Linked DNA regions of Homo sapiens. The protein of the gene in region 1 interacts with the protein of each later gene in a biochemical or structural test. Each region holds a gene or a part of one and is shown in the gene's direction. Other genes may lie near its edges. The genes, in order: CRYAB, CRYGD and CRYBA1.

Region 1 (3,751 bases):
CAAGAGGCAGGATGAGGGAGGATGAGGCTGGCACAGGGGCGAAATGGGAAATCTGGAGAGGAGGGATTGGGAAGAGCAAGAGGGGAGTCAGGAGGAGTAGGGAACGGGAGGGAGGCCACACTGTAGCTAGGAGGAGAAGGCAGCTCGGAAGAGGGGAAAGAGAACGGAAAGGAAAGGGAGGAGGAGGAGGAGAAGGAGGAGGAGGGGGAGGAGGAGGAGGCACCAAACGGCCTGGGTGGATAGAAGGGGGACAAGGAGGCACACCCAGGCCGGCAAAGAGCAGGTATCAGCACTGCAAGCACCAAGTGTGTCTTGAGGTCAGCAGGAATGGGAAAGATCTCTGCTTGGAGGGGATGAGGGGTAGTCTGGGGTGGGGGGTGGCTGGTCCCAGGAGATCAGTTAAGCCCAGAGTGGGGTGGAGGCCAGCAACGTTGGGAGGTCAGCCCAGAATTTCAGGGGGTGGGGGTGGGGGGCAAGGGGGTGGTGTCTGTGCCATACCTTCTCCGAAGCGCTGCTCACCCAGGCGGCTCGGGTTGGCAAATTCGTACTCGGCGGTGGCCGGGTGGGCATGTGGCACTGAGCGGCCCGACATGGCTGCAGATGCAGCAGAAGCCCTGGTCCGAGGTGCAGCCCCAACAGGCGCAGCGCGACCCCTCCAGCTGCCCGGAGAGCCAGGGCTCGATAGGAGGTGGGGGCGGGGTCGACACCACCCAAAATAGTGCCGAGCCTCTTGGGGGGGGAGGGGCTGGGAGTGGGGGCCCTGAGTGAGAGCAACGAGGGTGTGACCAGCGCCGCCCGGACCCCTAGTCCCCTCCCCCGCACACTCTTCAGCTGTCGCAGGGGGCCTGAGAGGACAGCTGAGGGTCCTGGCTGGGAACGAGCTGGGGAGGGGGAGCTGGTGGTGCCTGGGGCATGAAGAGGCCTCGCTGAGACCCTCACAAACGGTTTGCACGTTTCCACACCTCATTTTCTCCTCTTCGGTGGCAGGCACTGTGCACCCAATTCCTAAAGCACTCCTGGATTTAATGTTCTGAGAGCCACATAGAACGAAAGATGCAAGAAATCTGTTTGCTCTTTTTTCAGGGGGTGGGGTCTTTCTGCCCAGATGTGGGATCCTCTCCTAAACCCAGGTCAACCCAGGGCACGAGGCAGATGGCTGGTGCTGACATGTTGACCATCACTGCTCTCTTCCAAGGACTCACAAAGAGTTAATGTCCCTGGGGCTCAGCCTAGGAAGATTCCAGTCCCTGCCCAGGCCCAAGATAGTTGCTGGCCTGATTCCCCTGGCATTCAGGACTGGAAAGGAGGAGGAGGGGCACACTACGCCGGCTCCCATCCTCCCCCCACCCCGCGTGCCTGCTTGGGATTCCTGACTCTGTACCAGCTTCAGAGAACAGGGGTGGGGGTGGGTGCCATTGGGTGTGGACAGAAAGCTAGTGAAACAAGACCATGACAAGTCACTGGCCGGCTCAGACGTGTTTGTGTCTCTCTTTTCTTAGCTCAGTGAGTACTGGGTATGTGTCACATTGCCAAATCCCGGATCACAAGTCTCCATGAACTGCTGGTGAGCTAGGATAATAAAACCCCTGACATCACCATTCCAGAAGCTTCACAAGACTGCATATATAAGGGGCTGGCTGTAGCTGCAGCTGAAGGAGCTGACCAGCCAGCTGACCCCTCACACTCACCTAGCCACCATGGACATCGCCATCCACCACCCCTGGATCCGCCGCCCCTTCTTTCCTTTCCACTCCCCCAGCCGCCTCTTTGACCAGTTCTTCGGAGAGCACCTGTTGGAGTCTGATCTTTTCCCGACGTCTACTTCCCTGAGTCCCTTCTACCTTCGGCCACCCTCCTTCCTGCGGGCACCCAGCTGGTTTGACACTGGACTCTCAGAGGTGAGTCTCCCCACAGCTAGGACGGGAGAGTCCTTACTGGAACCTCCTGGAAACTTCTCCATCCATTTTCCTTTCCTACCCTGCCTAAACCATTTTAGGCACATGTGTGTCCAAATGTGAAGAAAAATGAGGAGGTTGCTAGTGCCTTCCTCCCCCATCACCTGTTTCTATTTGATAGTCCTCTGTATCCCATTTATTACATTTTTTCATGCACTGTCAAGTTTATCCTCCGTCCCCTAACTTCTCTACAGGATACCCCTTTCTGGTTTGGTTCATGACAATCTGCAGGGAAAGAGCTGCCTTCAAACTCCTTTGCTTATCTCTTCCAACACCTTGGACTCTTGACCGATTTTACCATCTCAGGTTTCAGAGCCAGGAGAGAGCCCTGCCTCATCCTGAGCTGTTCATCCCCATGGGTATTTTCTGCCTTTCTATTCCCTCTTCTATGATTTTCTGGGTTTCTCAGGGCTACGACAGGGCGCTGGCCTGGGTCCAATCAAGCCCTACGAGGAAACAATATAGGGACGCCCATTTGTCCTAAGAGGGTGGAAGAACAGGGTGAACAAATAAGGTTGACAGAGCTGTCACAGATAACACTCTGGTTTAAAAATATTCAAGTGTGAGTAAACAGGAGCTGAGTGGGCAAGGGCTTTGGAAGGACAAGCAGGACCAGCAGAACATTCCAGATTGGGTGGGTGGAAAACTGGCAAAGAGACCTGAGCCAGAAGAAGAGGCCTTTGTCTCACAGACAAACCACAAAGCCAGGCATTGGAGTCAGAGAGGCAGCAGATGCCAGGCTTGCACCCATCCTTGCGACTGGTCCCCTGGGTGATCTGTCTTCTTCTCTGTCCCTGTAAATAAAGTTTGGGTCTGATCACCATGAGCCTTAGGTATCACTGTGGTGGCTCCCTGAAGCAGACAGCTATGTTTATTTAAAAAGGAGATTTTTTAAGCAGAGAAGAGAAGGATGAATTACCCGGACAGAAAGCAGCTCTGCAGAATAAGACAGCACCTGTGTAATCAGTATTTTTGCCCTCTTTCTCCCATCCCATTCCCTTACCTTGCTATTTCTAGATGCGCCTGGAGAAGGACAGGTTCTCTGTCAACCTGGATGTGAAGCACTTCTCCCCAGAGGAACTCAAAGTTAAGGTGTTGGGAGATGTGATTGAGGTGCATGGAAAACATGAAGAGCGCCAGGTATGTAGCTTGTTTTTTTGTTTTCTGCTCATTCATTCAGTGCATACTGTAATAGTCCAGGTAGTGCTATCAGCTTTGGAGGCTGGCTACATTCCAGTCCCAAGCCATAACAGTCGGGATCAGGGGTTACAAATCAATGTCTAGAAGACTAAGTTAGGATAGACATATTGCTGTTGTTACTATTATGGCCAGAGATGTGGCCTTTGATTTGATCGCCTTAGATGGGATGATGGGATGCTGATGCCCCATTTAAGCCAGTGGTTCTGAATCTGGGCCACATTAGAATCACCAGGGGAACTTTCAAAAAACCTAATGCTCGGGCATACTCCAGACCAATTAGCATATGTGCTGCCGAAGCGAGCACTACTCCAGACCAATTAAATCAGCATTTTTAAGGGTGGGACCCAGGCATCAGCAATTTTTAAGGTAATTCTAATCTACAGTCAAGGTTGAGAACCACTGATTAGGTATAGGGCTGTCAGACACCTAGTTGCTTTGCATAATTACATTAACTACAGGTACCCTAAAAGCACTTGAGTTGTGACTTCTCTTTTAGCTGTGCAAGAATCCGTGTCTCTTCTTTAGCCCATCTTAATGCTGAACTACTTGGTTTGTCTAAATTTCAGAGCTGTGCTCAGTCTTTAATCCCCTACAGC
Region 2 (3,751 bases), on another chromosome or scaffold:
CTCAGCCTCCTAAGTAGCTGGGGCTACAGGCGCGCACCACCATGCCTGACTAATTTTTTCACTTTTTTGTAGAGAAGGGGTCTCACTATGTTGCCAGGGCTGGTCTCGAACTCCTGGGCTCAAGTGACCCTCCCACCTTGGCCTCCGAAAGTGCTGGGATTACAGGTGTGAGCCACCACACCCAGCCACAAGTTTATTTTCCATTTCAATAGCCTCCAATTATTAGCCACTAGAGACTCTTAACTTCCTTGAGTTAGGATCCTTACCAATTTTTGAGCACCTACCATACGCCTGCTATATGTAGCAATGGGGATGAAGAAAACAATCAAAACAAAACAAAAGAAAAAGGTATTTCCCTACCACCGTAGAGCTCTATATAGAAAGAATACAAAAAAAAAAAAGCAGCCAGAAAATAAGAATTAAAATAATTTGTATTGCACATAGTTGGTGTTTAATTCATAAATACCACTTACAAAGATTTATGACTCAAAGACAAGACAAAGTACTTCCATGGGTTGACACAGGGCTGTAAGCAATTCTTTGAACATGAAAGAAGCTGGACACATAGGTCATATTCCACTCCAGTACTCTTCCCAGTCCATCAAACTGCTCTCTTCCAGGCCAATAAGTACTTTCTGAAGTCTTCCTCGAGTCCAACTTCTAGATTTTTATTCCTTCCTCTCCCTGCATCATTCCAGCCATAGCTCCCCTTTGTGTTCATGCAATTAATTTCGTCTGAGTCAAAGGCCTTGTGTACTCTCGCTCGTTCAGAGGGCAAAGGTGTATTCTAGATCCTACCAGAAATAAGTTTCTTAGGAATTTGGTTTTATTTTATAACAAGCTAAGAGATCATGTTTTTGTGTTTCAAACATATTACTTTTTCTAATTTCCTCAAACTTAGATATTTCCCTTTTTAGTTCTTTCTGAGATTAAGCATCTTAGAACTATTCTCTCTTTTGAATCACGGCACCACCTTTAGCTAAGAGAAAAACATCTAATTCTCAGCTACTTCCAGGCATAATTGCAACAAAATCAGACCCAATATTGAAGATTCACGTTTGCTGTGTGTTTTACCATAATAAAAGTTCGAAATTCTGTGAACTCTCTTAATAAAATGTTCCAATTTCTTACACCCTTTCATGATGACGTTCTCTTAAAGGACTAACTTGAAATTTTCAACATTCAGTTAAGCCCATTTCCTTCCTATTAACAATCAGTATTCAATATTGTGGCACGTAAGTAATACTGTAGTTCTGACAGATTAATTTATATTTGCCTTATTAAGAGTCGTTGCTTTTTTTGCTCCCCGACTTAAATTTTTTTTGTTTTTCCCCAATCTATACGAATAAAAGCGTGAACTATATGTGAAATAGCTGAAGCTCCACTTCCATTATAAATAGACAATGTCCCAAATTGCCGTTTTACAAACATTCTCAATAGCATCAGCCAGTGATAGCAATCCGAATACTCCAGAGAGAATGCGACCAAAACCCACAACAAGCCCCGTGGTCTAGCACAGCAAAGAGAAAAAAAGAGAACACGAAAATGCCCTTGCTCCCCTCCGGGGGCCCCTTTTGTGCGGTTCTTGCCAACGCAGCAGCCCTCCTGCTATATAGCCCGCCGCGCCGCAGCCCCACCCGCTCAGCGCCGCCGCCCCACCAGCTCAGCACCGCCGTGCGCCCAGCCAGCCATGGGGAAGGTGAGCCCAGCCTGCGCCCCGGGACCCCGGAGCTTCCTCCATCGCGGGGGCCAGAGACTGGGGCAGGAGCAGGCCTGTGAGACCTCGCCTTGTCCCGCCTTGCCTTGCAGATCACCCTCTACGAGGACCGGGGCTTCCAGGGCCGCCACTATGAATGCAGCAGCGACCACCCCAACCTGCAGCCCTACTTGAGCCGCTGCAACTCGGCGCGCGTGGACAGCGGCTGCTGGATGCTCTATGAGCAGCCCAACTACTCGGGCCTCCAGTACTTCCTGCGCCGCGGCGACTATGCCGACCACCAGCAGTGGATGGGCCTCAGCGACTCGGTCCGCTCCTGCCGCCTCATCCCCCACGTGAGTACATCCTCAAGTCAGGACCCAGGCCCTCAGGACACTCACTGGATGGTTTCAAGCAAAAGTTAAACATTAGAAGTAGTGATCAGTCACAATAACTGAGAGTGGACAAAAGATGAACTATAGTGGATTAAGTCAATAGAGTTTGCTCCCCACATAAGCAAAGTATTACCCAGACACCAGTTAATCACAATTAATCCACAAATATGTATTGAGTAGGAATGTGTCTCCTGCCCTAGGGGTTGTATAAGACTTAAGTCCTATTCTGGAATCATTTAGAATGGAGTTGTAGAAAAACCACTAATACCCAATAGAAGAATAAATGCTAGAGCGTACAGCAGTTACTGAGCAAACAGGGTAATTTCTTTTGAGACTTTTTCCCGTTTTTGCTCCTCTCTTGCATATTTTGGGTTTTCCCAACCTATATAAGTAAGACTTTCCTTCAAAGGAGAGCAACACACATATTTTACACATGTGTCCCTTTTATCCCATATGTGTGTTAGAACACTAAAGTTTATGCAAAATTCGTCCTTGGACTTACTGATGTTTCTTCCTCCATTTTTCTTCATTGCATTCACAAGTTATTGACTTAGAATTAATTGTTCTTTAATATATGAAGATATTTAACATTTTATATTTTAATATATTTTAAATATTTATATTTTAATATATTTAAAACACTTATATTTTGAATAGAAGGCTTATATATTTAACATATTTTATTTATGTCATTGATTTAAATGATGCATTATCATTTAATTCAATATATTAAATGATATATTTAATATATTTTAAATACTTATATTTAAAATACATATTTTTATATTTTAAATATATTTACATTAAATATATTTAATGAATATAATGTATTTAATAATATATTTATTTAATAAATATGTATTTAATATATTTATATAACTACATAAATTATATTATATTTTAAATATATTTAACATATTTTAAATATATTTTAATATATTTTTAATATATTTCATTTACATTATATGTGTGTATATATATATTTTTGTTGTTGTTGTTTTGTTTTTGTTTTTTGAAACAGAGTCTCACTCTGACGCCCAGGCTGGAGTGCAGTGGTGCAATCTCGGCTCACTGCAACCTCCGCCTCCTGGATTCAAATGATTCTCGTCTCTCAGTCTCCTGAGTAGCTGGAGTTACAGGAGCACGCCACCACACCCAGCTAATTTTTGTATTTTTATTTTTATTTTATTTTATTTTATTATTTATTATTATTATTTTTTTTGACGAAGTCTTGCTCTGTTCCCCACGCTGGAGTGCAGTGGCATGATCTCGGCACACTGCAACCTCTGCTTCCTGGGCCCTAGCAATTTTCTTCCCAAGTAGCTGGGATTACAGGCACCCGCCACCACACCTGGCTAATTTTTGTATTTTTAGTATAGACAAGGTTTCGCCATATTCGTCAGGCTGGTCTTGAACTCCTGACCTCAAGTGATCCACCTGCCTCGGCTTCCCAGGGTGCTGGGACTACAGGCATGAGCCACTGCCCCACCCCTTATATTTCTGTATTTTAAATATATTTTATTTATATTTTAGTAAAGTTATTTTAAAATAAAATATAATTTGTAAAATAAATATAATTTTAATTTATACTTATAAAATATAATTTGAATATAATTATTAAAATAAAATATGATTAACTTTAAATAAAATATAATTTTAT
Region 3 (3,751 bases), on another chromosome or scaffold:
CGCCGCCCGCCACCACGCCCGGCTAATTTTTTGTATTTTTAGTAGAGATGGGGTTTCACCGTGTTAGCCAGGATGGTTTCGATCTCCTGACCTTGTGATCCGCCCGCCTCAGCCTCCTAAAGTGCTGGGATTACAGGCGTGAGCCACCGTGCCCAGCGAAATTTTCAATAGTATCTTTCATTGGAAAGAGAGTAGGGTAAGGAGTCATAAGCCTACAATGTATCAGGCAGATATTCTATTTTTGAGGTTGAGAGAGTCTGAGTGACTTGCTTCAAATCTCCCAGCCAGGAAACTGGGATTTGAACCCACATCTGCCTGGCTCAAAGCCTTCCACATCCATTGCAGCCTCTTGCTTCTCACAATATCTGTGATGCTTGCAGAACACATCTTCCCCTTCAGGGCCCCTGCGGAGGCCCACGATTCCCCTACCTTACCTTCATCAAGTGTCCTGAAGTTTCTGGGAGAAGTCATTTTACACTTTAAGGTACTATACGCATAGTAACTTGGGCCTGTGAGATTTCCAAAGACCTAAAACAATTCAGTAAAACGTCAAAATTGGCCGGGCACAGTGGCTCACGCCTGTAATCTCAGCACTTTGGGAGGCCGAGGCAGGCAGATCACTTGAGGTCAGGAGTTCAAGACCAGCCTGGCCAACATGGTGAAACCCTATCTCTACTAAAAATACAAAAAAATTAGCCGGGCATGGTGGCAGGTGTCTGTAATCCCAGCTACTCAGGAGACTGAGGCAGGAGAATCACCTGAACCTGGGGGGCAGAGGTTGCAGTGAGGCAAGATCGCACCACTGCACTCCAGCCTAAGCAACAGAGCGACACTCTGTCTCAAAAAGAAAAAAAAAATTGGTTTTGAAGGTGTGGGTGGCAGGAATTCTCGCCCCTGGCCTGGGTGAGCTAGAGGGGAGAAGCAAGGACATCTAGGTCCCTATCACCGCTTGCCTAGACAACTTCACAGGAAGGCCCCCGGGAATCTGAGATGGAGCAGGTGAACCCTTTACATCTAGATGGTGAGTCCAAAGGAGGTATTCAGAAGGTTGCCTTCTTCCCCTTCCTACTGCTGCCCAACGATGACCCGCAGGCTGAAAGAGCCCTTTCCTCCTGGAACTGATGTGGGACCTGGCCTGTTTGGGAGCAGAATGGTGAAAGGAATTAACATGGAAGACAAAGGGACAGGCAGCCAAGATCATTTGAGGAGGAAAAATTGCTTCATTTCTAGGCTCCTTCCCCTTTTGAAACAGATAAGTTACATCCATTATATGCTCAGTGTTTATATTCAGAACTGCAGTTCTAGCCAGGGGGGTCTCTTTCCTCTCCTGGAATTTTTTGGGCCATTTATGCATTACTCCTGAGGGAGGGCCAGTGCAGGGCAGTGACTTTGGTGTTGGTTAGAACTGGATTCGAGTCTTGGCTCTGCCATTATAAATACTGTGACCTTAGGCAAGTCACCTGATTGTTCTCTTAGTTTCTTAATCTGGAAAATGGAGGTGAAAATAGCACTGTTGTGGTGGCTGTGAAAAAGTATTTCTTTCTTTTGTTGTGGAAAAGTATTTAATTCAAACTTTTTAAGTAAAGCATTTAGCACATGTCTAATATATAGGAATTATTCAATAAATGGTTTAATTCTTTTTTAAAAAACCCAAAAGTTATAGCTCCAAAATTTTTAAAGAAAATTGCAAAATTAAAAGGAATATTTAATAAAATAGCTACAGAGAGACACATGTCTGCTAGTCAACTATAATTGAAGTCAACCCTTACATAGTTATATATAAATACAGCATAATAAAGATTCCCAAGAATACAATGAACCATTTTTTCTCATATTGAGTTCAGAATTACAATAATTCTTTCACATTTTTAAACAACAAGAAATGCACATCTGTATGGAAGTGAGGTGCATTTTGATGTGTTTGATATGACATGGGGTCTCCCAGGGTCTTAAGGTCTTAGGAAGATCCCAAGGTGGTGTGAGGAACCTGGAGAAGGACAAGAGACAAGTACTCATGGCAGAGACTTCTGTCCTCACCCCCTAGCTGCTCTGAGAGATTAAGAAAGCCAAGGCCTGCAGCAGCCAGCCATGCCCACAACAGAGGGGCCTCTCTGGATTTCTGTATCCCTGGTTTAAACAAAGGCCCCAGCAAGCTGAGCCACCAAAGCTCTGGGGATCATGAGGAACAAAGGCAGAGGGAGAGCAGAGTGCTGACAGGGCCAGAGGCCAGAGGCCGCAGGGCTATAAAGAGGAGGGCCACAGAGCAAGTGGTACCAGATGGAGACCCAGGCTGAGCAGCAGGAGCTGGGTGAGTAAGGCCCTCAGGGTGCCCTTGCCCTTCCTCTCCTTGCCCTGCAGAGACATGCCCAGGAGAGGGCCCAGTTCTCCTGCCTAGTGTGTAGAGCCTTCTAGGGTGGCTGGAGAAGAGTGGGGAACTCTGGCGGAAGACAGCCTTCTCTTGTCACCCCAAGAGGAGTCACTTATATAGCAATAACCACTGCCCTAGCAACTAAGGCTGGGGGATGGGCATGGGCCCCCAAGAAACGAGCAGGGAGAAGGTATGGGAGCAGGACCTGGGAAATGTTGCTTATTCAGAGATTCAGAATGGAAAAATATATTACAGAGTTGACATGCATCATTCCTGGGCCCAATACCAGCCAGGAGGAGGGCCATGAATATCTGTCCTAAGAAACCTAATACACACCTGCCTGTCTTCCTTCTTCCCTTCCTCCCCCACTTTTCCTTCCTCTTTCTTGCTCTGTCCTTCCTTTTTTAAAACTCGTCCTACCATCTTCACTGTCTACCTAACCTCTTTGAGCCTCAGTATCCTCATCTGTAAAATGGGGATAATGATAATTCTTAATTCATAGTCTGTATGTGAAGATTAAATGCATGAATGCATGTAAAGCATTTAAAACAGGGCCGGACATGTAGATAGCCATTTTTGAGTGTAAGTATTATAACTCTTTTCTTCTTCACTTTCCTTCAATAAGTCTTTTTCAATGTCCCCCTGATCCCTCATCTCCACATGTGCTCAGCACGATGCTATACCAATCCCCTAGAAGACCGAGGCCTTGCCATTGAGGTGCTCACCAGGACATCCAACCAGAACACAGATTGGTACTGTGATGAGTGCTATAAATCAAGAAAGCAAGCAAGTGGCTGTGGGCTGGAGAAGGCAGGAAAGCCTCTGAGAAGGCAAGGTCAAGGCTGGGTAGGATCTAGGAGATAGAAAAGCAGAAAGGAATGGCCAGGCGCCGTGGCTCATGCCTGTAATCGCAGCACTTTGGGAGGCCAAGGCGGGCAGATCACCTGAGGTCGGGAGTTCAAGACCAGCCTGACCAACAGGGAGAAACCCCGTCTCTACTAAAAATACAAAATTAGCCGGGCGTGGTGGCACATGCCTGTAATCCCAGCTACTAGGGAGGCTGAGACAGGAGAATCGCTTGAACCTGGGAGGCGGAGGTTGCGGTGAGCCGAGATTGCGCCATTGCACTCCAGCCTGGGCAACAAGAGTGAAACTCTATCTCAAAAAAAAAAAAAGAAAAAGAAAAGCAGAAAGAGGCCAGATAAGGATGAGACCGTGAAGGGTTACGAGGGAGTCTGGGGCTTGGGATCCTGGCATGGCTGGCTGTTTGGCCAGTCACATGAGGGGTCTGGCCTAGGTGGTTGCCAAAGAGTTTATATTGCAGACAGAGGTAATGCTGTCACCTGAAAGCAAGTGAGAGGACAGGGTCTCAGTGCTTTACCT

Evidence for each region.
Region 2: the proteins of CRYAB (region 1) and CRYGD form a complex in vitro, tested with the Homo sapiens proteins (3 studies listed by BioGRID).
Region 3: the proteins of CRYAB (region 1) and CRYBA1 form a complex in vitro, tested with the Homo sapiens proteins (2 studies listed by BioGRID and IntAct, with this or other methods).

The regions. Positions count from the first base shown.
Region 1 is NC_000011.10:111,909,671-111,913,421, reverse strand, and holds the start of CRYAB (alpha-crystallin B chain), read left to right. Parts: upstream 1-1,651; 5' UTR 1,652-1,697; coding exon 1,698-1,898; intron 1,899-2,668; exon of another isoform or gene 2,669-2,972; coding exon 2,973-3,095; intron 3,096-3,751. Other genes in the region: HSPB2 (heat shock protein beta-2), read right to left, coding at 499-592. UniProt on the Homo sapiens protein: May contribute to the transparency and refractive index of the lens. Has chaperone-like activity, preventing aggregation of various proteins under a wide range of stress conditions.
Region 2 is NC_000002.12:208,122,413-208,126,163, reverse strand, and holds the start of CRYGD (gamma-crystallin D), read left to right. Parts: upstream 1-1,639; 5' UTR 1,640-1,690; coding exon 1,691-1,699; intron 1,700-1,809; coding exon 1,810-2,052; intron 2,053-3,751. UniProt on the Homo sapiens protein: Crystallins are the dominant structural components of the vertebrate eye lens.
Region 3 is NC_000017.11:29,244,587-29,248,337, forward strand, and holds the start of CRYBA1 (beta-crystallin A3), read left to right. Parts: upstream 1-2,272; 5' UTR 2,273-2,277; coding exon 2,278-2,308; intron 2,309-3,751. UniProt on the Homo sapiens protein: Crystallins are the dominant structural components of the vertebrate eye lens.